Regions from separate parts of the Homo sapiens genome. Here region 2 is linked to region 1. The links come from fine-mapping of genetic effects on gene expression. A gene starts in region 1. The other region holds a variant in brackets. All regions are shown on one strand. Distances are between the middles of the regions.

The links. PIP is the estimated chance that this variant, and not a neighbour inherited with it, causes the effect.
Region 2: its variant is fine-mapped to the expression of RAD51B in whole blood (TOPMed, PIP above 0.99).

Annotation. Positions count from the first base shown.
Region 1 is chr14:67,816,843-67,822,227 of GRCh38, reverse strand. It overlaps RAD51B (RAD51 paralog B), which reads right to left and starts at 2,449. Exons shown (of 11, transcript NM_133510.4): 1 at 2,375-2,449. RefSeq lists enhancers at 1,301-2,062, 2,322-2,616, 5,107-5,206, 5,257-5,385.
Region 2 is chr14:67,972,671-67,978,055 of GRCh38, reverse strand. All of the region lies in intron 7 of RAD51B (RAD51 paralog B), which reads right to left. Among named protein-coding and RNA genes, the nearest start is that of RAD51B, 160 kb to the right of the region's middle. The variant G/A (reference allele first, on the strand shown) is at 2,411.

The DNA.
Region 1 (5,385 bases):
ATTGAGATGGTAAAGAAGTATCCTCTGGAACGAACTGAAACAGGAACTCTTCATGGATCCAAGGAATAAAGCAATATAGTTATCAGAAAAGAAGTAACATTTTGGAATGAAAATATATGTATACTGAGAATGTATATATTTGTTTATTTCCAATACCATGGCCCAAATTTCTATTTAACACCTAAATTCTCTGAATCAGACTGAATCAATCTCTCTCTCTCACACACACACACACGCACACACAATATACATACATACACACCTCTCACAAACAAAAATACATCCTCCTCATTTCTCTCCATGGGAATTTGTTAGCAATGACTTGTTTCCCCCAGTAGAAAACCAAGTGATACCTGCTATAATATTGCCTAGTGTCTTTTCAGATCAGGTAGTTTCAAGTAATGACACCATTTAGACTGATAAATTCAATTTAAAAAAAAAAAGAAGGAGAAAGAAAAGAACCATAGGCCACACAAGGTAGCTCACGCCTACAATCCCAGCACTTTGGGAGGCTAAGGCAGGCAAATTGCTTGAGCCCAGGAGTTTGAGACCAGCCTGGGCAACATAGAGAGAACCTGTCTCCACAAAAAAATACAAAAATTAGCTGGGCATTGTGCCGCACACCTGTAGTAGTCCTAGCTACCCAGGAGGCTGAGATGAGAGGATCACCTGAGCCCAGGAGGTCGAGCCTGCAGTGAGCTGTGGTCATGCCACTGCACTCTAGCCTGGGGAACAGACTGAGACCCTATCAAAAACAAAAAACAAACAAACAAAAAACTATAAATTCTAAACTACAAGGACTTTAACAACAACCAATTCTGCCATTTCTGCCTTAATAGGGCCACTCCCATCACTTGCCTGGACTATTGCATATTGTTTCTGGCCACTCCATTCATTTGTTCCTTAATTTACTCCTTCCACAGGCATTTAAATACACACCCTGCTGAGGTCTGGGGTACAAGAATCATTTAAGCATATTCCCTCCCCTTTGAATACTCATAGTTGAGATGAAAAGAGAGGTACACACAAATAACTACAGCCATGCAGTAAGCATTACAATTGCTATTTAAAAGTGCTATGGAAGCAGACAGGAAGAAGCCCCAAATTCGCCTGCAAAAGTCAGATCAGTGTCACAATCCTGCCTTGAGTAGCTTCCTAAAAAGTCACGATTATCCTTTAACACTTCCCATGGGACTGGTAGACCACAGGATAAATTCCAAACTTCTTAGGGTCGCAGAGAAAAACATCAAAAATTGGTCCCTCACTTCCTTCTCACTCATACATCACATTGCAACGTTCAGTTCCTATCCTTCCTGGCAGTTACTTCACCTCTCAGTGTCTTAATTTCCTTAAAACCCTTGTTTTACAGTCATATGAATTTACTACTTCATATGACTGTAGTGGAGGTTAAAGGACTCGGGGAGTGCGTGGCACATAGTACTTAAGGTCAGCAATCATCATTTAATGACTCTCACATGATCTGCCCTCCAGCCACATGGTATGTGTATTGGTAGGTCACGCATCCTGTCTCCCTGACTTCCCTCCACAAAACCTTCCCCAGAGTCAAGTCTTTTCCTCTCCAATGTTCTCATCAACTTCGCACATATCTATTCGATAATCTTATCAAAATACTATTATGGCTTGCAAGTTTGTTTGCCCCCACCGGAGCACGTAAATTCCTGCGGTGTATGTGTGCGCGAAAGCACGTATGTGTATTGCACATGAGGGGAGACGGTCAACCCTGGAGAATGAACCCTGTCCTCCTTACCACCAAGAAAAGAAAATTCTTCATGTTAGATGTTCAACAACTGTTTAGGAACAATATTAGCTAATATTTATTGAGCCCTTATTACGTGCCACACTGTTCCAAAGGCTTCGGATATTTTACCTCACTTTACAGATAAGGATACTGAGGTAACTAGTTGAGAAACTTGGGCAAAGTTAAACAGCTGACAATTGGTGTGAAGCTCGCATTCGAATCCAGGGACCGGACTCCAGATTCCACGCTCTCCAACACCACCTGAAGTGGGAGAGTCCCTCAACTTCCCCTAATGACAGGCTGCCCGAAGCGGGAAGGGGCTGGGGAGGAAGATGGGCAGCAACAGGCGGAAACATCACCCAGAATCCCCTAAAAAGAGCTTTTTCCAACAATGAGCAGCTTCCAAGCATTCCCCACCAAAAGAAGGCCCGAAGCTCCCCCAATTCACAGCGGGGTTCTTAGTGACGATCCCGAGTCTTAAGGGGGCGTGACCAGCACCCAAGAGAAAATCTCCGCTCCCCCAATATCGAAACCCACGAGCCTAGGGAAGGAGCAGGAAATAATGAGCGAACCCCACTTCCCCACAACGGCACCCCACATGAAACTTTCCAGTACCGGGTCTGCAGCATCCAACTTTCAAGTTTCCCCACCCTTTACACAGTTTCCCCGCGGAAAACGCCGCAAAGCAACAACCGAAGCACTGATTGAGTCGTCATTCTGGCTACTGTATCCAATCAGAGGCCGGCAGAGGCCCAGGTTGGCTCCGCGGCTTGCTGGGAATTGTAGTTAATACTATGATCAGCCTAACAGATCGAATCTGAAGCAGTTTCTCAATATAGTGATTATCAAAATCTGTTGCAGGACCATCACCAAAGAGAATGTGAAACAAGGGAACACCCTGTTTGGAAATTTTTCTTTTTTCTTTCTTTTTTTTTTTTTTTGAGACGGGGTCTCGCTCTGTCGCCCAGGCTGGAGTGCAGTGGCGCGATCTCGGCTCACTGCAAGCTCCGCCTCCTGGGTTCACGCCATTCTCCTGCCTCAACCTCCCTAGTAGCTGGGACTACAGGCTCCCACCACCACGCCCGGCTAATTTTTTTGTATTTTTAGTAGAGACGGGGTTTCACCGTGTTAGCCAGGATGGTCTCGATTTCCTGACCTCGTGATCCGCCCGCTTCGGCCTCCCAAAGCGCTGGGATTACAGGCGTGATCCACCGCTCTCGGCCCTGGAAATCTTTTTTTTCGTGTATCATCACTTTTCACAATGGCTTAAAGGGGCCAGACGCAGTGGCTCACGCCCGTAATTTCAGCACTTTGGGAGACCGAGGCGGGAGGATCACTTGAGCCTGGGAGTTCGAGACTAGCCTTGGCAACATAGTGAGACACCCTCCCCCACCCCTCCGCCTCTACAAAAAAATACAAAAAATAGGCTGGGCGCGGTGGCTCATGCCTGTAATCCCAGCACTTTTGAAACTGCCCGATGGGTTCACCTTACCAGCTGCCTAGACAGAACCGATTTATCAGGACAGGGGAATTGCAATGCAGAAAGAGTAATTCACGCAGAGCCAGCTGTGCGGAAGACTGAAGTTTTATTGTTACTTAAATCAGTTGTCCCGAGCATTTGCGGATCGGAGTTTTTACCAATAATTTGGCTGGTAGGGGCTTAGGAAGTGGGGAGTGCTGATTGGTCAGGTTGGAGATGGAATCATAAGGGGTCGAAGTGAGGTTTTCTTAATGTCTTCTGTTCCTGGGTGTGATGGCAAAACTGGTTGCGCCAAATTACTGGTCTGAGTGGTGTCAGCTGATCCATGGAGTGCAGGGTCTACAAAATATCTCAAGCACTGATCTTAGGGCTTGCAATAGTGATGTCACCCCCGGGAGCAATTTGGGGAGGTTCAGACTCTTGGAGCCAGAGGCTGCATGACCTCTAAACTGTAATTTCTAAACTTGTAGCTAATTTGTTAGTCCTGCAAAGGCAGACTGGTCCCCAGGCAAGAAGTGGGTCTTTTCGGAAAGGGCTGTTATCAATTTTGTTTCAGAGTCAAACCATGAACTGAATTCCTCCCCAAAGTTAGTTCAGCCTACGCCCAGGAATGAACAAGGACAGCTTAACGGTTAGAAGCAAGATAGAGTCGGTTAGGTCTGATTTCTTTCACTGTCATAATTTCCTCAGTTATAATTTTGCAAAGGCGGTTTCACTTCGGAATGCTGAGGCAGGCAGATCACTTGAGCTCAGGATTTCGAAACCAGCCTGGCCAACATGGCGAAACCCCGCCTCTACTAAACATACAAAAATTAGCCAGACATGGTGGCAGGCACCTGTGATCCCAGCTACTTGGGAGGCTGAGGTGAGAGGAGCCAGACATTGCCTCAAAAAAAAAAAAAACCTTAATGGGCCAGAAAGCCATGTTACTTTTCTCAGGAATCGAGGACAATCCACCAATCACAGAAGAGTTTTTGGAAGAAAACGTTTTGTTTGTTTTAACTTGCTCTTTTCACCACCCTTTGGTGATTAAATAGTTTGGGAAATGCTGAATGAAATTACTAAACCTGAAACACACATAGTGAGGAAAGCTGAGAGTCTGTGATTAAAGCACACCAGGGAAACCAAACAAAAGGCTTGGTGTAAGGCAGCTGTGGTGAGCAAACCTAGTAAGCCGTTACTTCAAGAGTTGGTTTCAGGCTGGGAACGGTGGCTCACGCCCGTAATCCCAGAACTTTGGGAGGCCGAGGTGGGCGGATTGCCTGAGGTCAGGAGTTCGAGACCAGCCTGGCCAACATGGTGAACCCCTGTCTCTATTAAAAATACAAAAATTAGCCGGGTGTGGTGGCGCGCGCCTGTAAATCCCAGCTACTCAGTGAGGCTGAGGCAGAAGAATCGCTTATCCCAGCTACACAGTGAGGCTGAGGCAGGAGAATCGCTTAAACCCGGGAGACGGAGGTTGCAGCGAGCCGAGATCGCGCCATTGCACTCCAGCCTGGGAGACAGAGCGAGACTCTGTCTCAAAACAAAAGACTTGGTTTCAGATTATTGTGTTTGCGAAAAAGCCTTTGCTCATTCTTTGCTCTCTGATCTCTTATGCATACTTCTGTCTTATAATTTAGCCCACCGTCTCCTAATTTTTGGCCTGCATCTCCCTTGAGAAGAAGGACCTCCATTTACTCAACTTAGAGAATAGGGCCTAAGCCCGGTGTAGTGGCGCGCGCCTCTAGTCCCAGCTACTACAGGAAGGCTGAGGCTTAAGGATTACTTGATCCAGGAAGTTCGAGGCTGCCATGAGCCGAGATCACACCACCGCACTCCAGCGACAGAGAGACTCTGTCTCTAAAAAAATAAAATAAAGCCTAGCACACCGTTCAATTAACAGTTGTAGGGTAAATGTGCAAATAAATGAATGGAGTGAAGCAGAAGAATATGGAAATTCAGACCGCAGAGTTCCGGAACAAAAGAGCCCAGTAGATAGAATAATAATGGAGGAGAACCCAGTTCTCCTAGCTCCGGGTATCCCCCGCGCCTGGCAAAACACCATCACTGGTTGGCGTTCAATAAATGTTGACTTCACATGTTAAGGAGATAAGAGAGTGGAAGAAAAAAAAAAATCCAGGGTCACAGTTCTTCCTGCCACCTG
Region 2 (5,385 bases), 160 kb before region 1:
AATACTCCTCTTATAAAACTCTAAAACCAAACATTCTACCTATGGCTTTAGGGGGAAAATAAGGAAGAGGAACAAAAAGGCACAGAAATAGAAAAAGCCATAAAAGAAGATACAAGGGAATGCTGGTAGAAACTAACAATGTAAATACAATGATATCTTATCAAGATCACAGAACTAAATTTAAAGTGGCCGAAAGAACTGGAGCTTTATTTCCCATGGGCTCTCAGGCTTTGTTCTCCAGGGCTTGTGCAAAGTATGCCAAGAATATTATGGAACACAATTAACCACAATGTTATTTTTAGGCAGTAGGTGTACTTACATTTTGATTGATATCATTACCTGACTTTAACTTTTCTTGGTGAATAACAAGAAGAAGCTAACACAAAATTTCAATTATTGCCCTTTCTTTGTGAATCAAATCCATAAAACTTCCAAGAGGGAGAAGATAAAAGTAAATTCCTTATTCAACTTATCTTTGCCAAAGGGCTTGGCCAGGCCCATAGCTGAAGCAGGCTAGGGATCAGAGACCTTGAATTGCTTGCTACTTAATACCTGTTCTGCTCTAGGCAACACTGAAAGTTTTGCTTTGATAGTTCAAGGCTAAAAGCCAATTCTGATAGTTGGCCGGAGGGAACTTTTTAAAGTTAATCTCTTCATACAGCAATGTTTCTTCAGGAAAATAATAAAATGTAGTTCCAAACTGTCCTGCAGTCCCAGCTCATCCTCATGAATGTCTCTAGCAGTTAAAATTCACTCAAAAAGGATTTTTTACATACAGGTGAATCAACATTTCTAGTTTTTCAATCAACCAGGATACACTCACAGCACACTACAATAAAGATGCGAGAAGTAAAAGGATTTTGCTGTCAGAAAATTGGAATTCTAGTTGGAAAGACATATTCACCCACTTAAACTAATTAAAAATAAAGAAAGGCACTGTTTGGTACTGAGTGTTAATGCAACGAGAATTCAAAGATTAAAAACTAGAGTTGATTCCTGACTTTTTAATGATTGCCATTCTAACTGGTGTGAGATGGTATCTCATTGTGGTTTTGATTTGCATTTCTCTGATGGCCAGTGATGATGAGCATTTTTTCATGTGTTTTTTGGCTCCATAAATGTCTTCTTTTGAGAAGTGTCTGTTCATATCCTTCGCCCACTTGTTGATGAGGTTGTTTGTTTTTTTCTTGTAAATTTGTTTGAGTTCATTGTAGATTCTGGATATTAGCCCTCTGTCAGATGAGTAGGTTGCAAAAATTTTCTCCCATTCTGTACGATGCCTGTTCACTCTGATGGTAGTTTCTTTTGCTGTGCAGAAGCTCTTTAGTTTAATTAGATCCCATTTGTCAATTTTGGCTTTTGTTGCCATTGCTTTTGGTGTTTTAGACATGAAGTCCTTGCCCATGCCTATGTCCTGAATTGTATTGCCTAGGTTTTCTTCTAGGGTTTTTATGGTTTTAGGTCTAATATGTAAGTCTTTAATCCGACGAGTTAATGGGTGCAGCACACCAACATGGCACATGTATACATATGTAACAAACCTGCACGTTGTGCACATGTATCCTAAAACTTAAAGTATAATAATAATAAAAATATATAAAATAAAATTAAAAAACAAAAAACAAAAAACTAGAGTTGAGCCAAGTGGAGTGGCTCACACCTGTAATTCCAGCATGCTGGGAGGCCAACATGAGAGGATCGCTTGAGCCCAGGAGCTCAAGACCAGCCTGGGCAACATAGGGAGACCCCATCACTACGAAAATTTTTAAAAATTATCTTGGCAAGGTAGCATGCATCTGTGGTCCCAGCTACTCAGGAGGCTGAGGCACGAAGATTGCTTGAGCCCAGGAGGTCCAGGCTGCAGTGAGCCATAATCACGCCACTGCACTCCAGCCTGGACAGCAGAGTGAGACCTTGTCTCAAAACACAAACAACAACAACCAAAAAAAAAAAAATCAAGCGAAAACAAAAACAACTGGAGTGGGCCAGAAAAGTCCAAACTGGGTTTATGAAAGAGGTGCAAGAAACATAAAGAATTTGAGTGGAGAACAAGAATCAACAACATTTGAAAAAGCAAGGAATATAAGCATTACAGATGAGGGAATAAAGCATTAATAAAGGTAAGAAAGTAAAACTGAACATGATATTAGGGATGGGGATAAGGTTTGGTCTGTTAAATCAAGTTTACCCTAAAGCTGCCTCCTTACATATTTTAAATTCAGCCTAAAGGTTTCTCTACACAGTGTGAACTATAATCTAAAAGGATGTGTAAACAGACTGTAATCTGCTCTTGTGACAATCACTGAGTTTTGGCCAAAGGGGGCCAACTGTTCAAACTACGTTCAAATAAGGCAAATGCGGAGCTGTAACCAATCCAGCTGTTTCTGTACCTCTATTTTGTTTTCTGTAC[G/A]TCACTTTCCTTTTTCTGTCCATAAATCTTCCAGCACGTGGCTGCAATGGAGTCTCTCTCAGACTACTCGGGTTCAAGAAGCCGCCAGATTTGCTCAATTAAACTGAGTTATATTTAATTTGGTTAAGGATTGTCTTTTAACAGGTCTAAAGTATAAACAACCAGTTTAAGTAAAATAGGTATATCTGTTAAGGTTTATGGTTGAATAAATATGATAAGGCTGGTTTATGGAAGGCTTTGAATGCCAAGGAGACCAACAGAAATTTGATTAGGCCAATGAGAGTCACAACTGGTTATTAATAAGGGAAGCAGCAGCATAAATTTCTTTTGAAAGGGTGGTTTTACAAACAGCATGGGGGTAAGGATTGGAAGCCAGCAAAGAAGATGGTGGAGCCCATTAGGTGCTAAGTGATAAGAACCTCAACTTGAATAACAGCATTCATTTGTGCACCATTCAATAATATTTATCGGATGTCTGAATGTTCATCATTCACATGTGAATAAGACAGATACGATATTACTAGCCCACAGAAACCATTAGGTAATAAATGTTCATTGTTTAAAGCGGCTAAGTTTTAGGGTAATTTGTTATGGCAATTGATAACTAATACAGATGTGAAGCCAGCAAAGCAGATATCAACTCTCCAAAAGTGGGAGAGAAACCAAAAAAAGCACACTACCACTGAAGACCAAAAATAATTTCAAAAATAAATAGTAGATTAGTAGTCAGTATCACATATAAAAGAGGAATATAGGATGATGAACATCTTTTAAAATGTTATTAAAGTTGATACAGTTCACAACTAATTAAAAATTATAAGAGATATACAAGAAAATACATATCATAATTGATTACCAAATTGTTTTTTCCATAAAAAGAGAATGAGTAGGGAAAAAGTGTACACAACTGATAAACACCTCAAATTTAAACAATTTATATTCCTAAGTCTATGGGTCGACCATTAACTGATTAAATATCTAGTGAAGTATAAGTCTCATGTACTGTAGTAAGTTTAAACAAAAATTTCACTTGTTTTGATCTAATACCCTAACTTTAGGCCTATACCCTCCTTATGACAAAAGAAAAAGCTTTGAATTTATTCAAACCTTTATCATATCACCTACCATATGTTGCTATAAATTATTTACATGTTCCCCATCCTAACTACAGTATAAGTTCCTCCAAAGTAGGAACCTTTAGTTTATTCATCTTTGAAGTCTCAGTACATAGATCAATATCTAGTCCATAAAAGATATTCAGTTGCTAACTGAAAGTTACTGAATTTAGTAGAAAAACAATGGCTTTTAAACATATTCATGTACCATCTATCATTTTTGAAGTAATAGGAGTTTTCTTTCATTACTGTCTCTGCTGGATAGTATCTCTTCATTGTAATTCCCTAAAATTTAGCCTGGTCCCATTTGTCTACCTTAGAACACTAGTCAAGGTCCTTCCACAAGACTTTCATGAGTTTCAAGGTCTTCATTTCTTTTGTATTTAATATTCAATCTTAACTTAGTTCTAACACAAACCTCCGTTTTAATTATATTGAACTGAACAATCCTGAACCCATATTATTTCATGTTTTTCTTCCCAGATCATCTCAAATTTTGACTTGGAATGTCAAAGCATTTATCTGAATCTAAAATTCCATATTCCCTTGTATATGCAAGTTGATAAATGCCTGAATAAAGTAATTAAGTGGCTATGTTTAGAAGAAACATAAGTAGAAACATAAGAAATAAGAAAATGAGGTGAAGTTACAAAAATTAACATTTAAAATAAACATTGGATGCTTGCTTTTTAAATGTCTATTTGTGAAACAACTAAATTTTGAATTTTTAAAATGGTCCTGATACACCAAATTAATCTAAAACTTTGCCACTTAAAATATAAATAGGCTACTACTGATCTTAAAGAGCTGTAATCAGGACAAATTCTTACATTGAAAATGTTTGTGGGCATTTACTCAGAACAGCTGCCACCCAGGATGACTAAAATAACACAAATTAGATGTAATTGAGTTAAGGGACCACACCAGGTTTGTAATTCAATTTGTCCTATGTGGTTTGGATTTGGGTTTTCTTTTTCCCCTCCAGCAAACCACAGTTTGAAAACTTCATCAAATGGGAAGTACAAAGGAATAGGAATATATAATGCAAATGTTTATCATGAACAATTTACATAAAATCCACTTTAACAGTTTAGACATAGTTTTTTGTGTGTGTGTGCTGTCTGATGGCAGCAAACATCACTTCAACATTGTTTAAGTTTCCTTTGAGGGTCCTATTCACTAAAACTTCTTGCTGCCAATTTCTCATTTTATCACAATTTATCCTAGCTGTAAAGTAAATTTTATTTTGTTCTAATTTCCTAACTTTGCACACTATTTACCTACAAGGTCAAAGCAGATTCCAGGTTGAATTCAAGCTCACTTACAGACTTCAGTCCAAAATCCTTAGGGTCAGTAATGAAAGTCAAAGGTAGAGCCAGAATTTTTACCAGGGTGTACCTTTCAGCAGCCTTAGATATGGTTGATTATAAGTTGCTGATAGATATGGCCAATTACATTGTCATCACTGTGTTGATAATTTTGATTTCTATGTGTCTAACCAGCATAGACCTGCCCCTAGACGAATGTTTAGATAAGATGCCCTGAAACTAACCAATCCCTACCCTTGTTGGGATCTACTCATACAAGAGAATGATCACTGAGGGATGTTTAGGAAAAGAGTTCAGCTTAGAAATTTAGTGTTGCCTCTCACCATGCCCTTTCCATTAGATGTCATGGGTTTCAAGCAAAATTTGAGATAAAGAGTTTTCCAAATCAGTATTTTGTTCAAACGGTTCCCAATTCATGACATGATAATAGTTCCACATAAAACCAAAGGATCTGATATAATTAACAGGCTTCATTTCAGAAAATCTTGTTTGACAAGATTTCTCTGATAATTACAGGTTAAGCAGACCACAG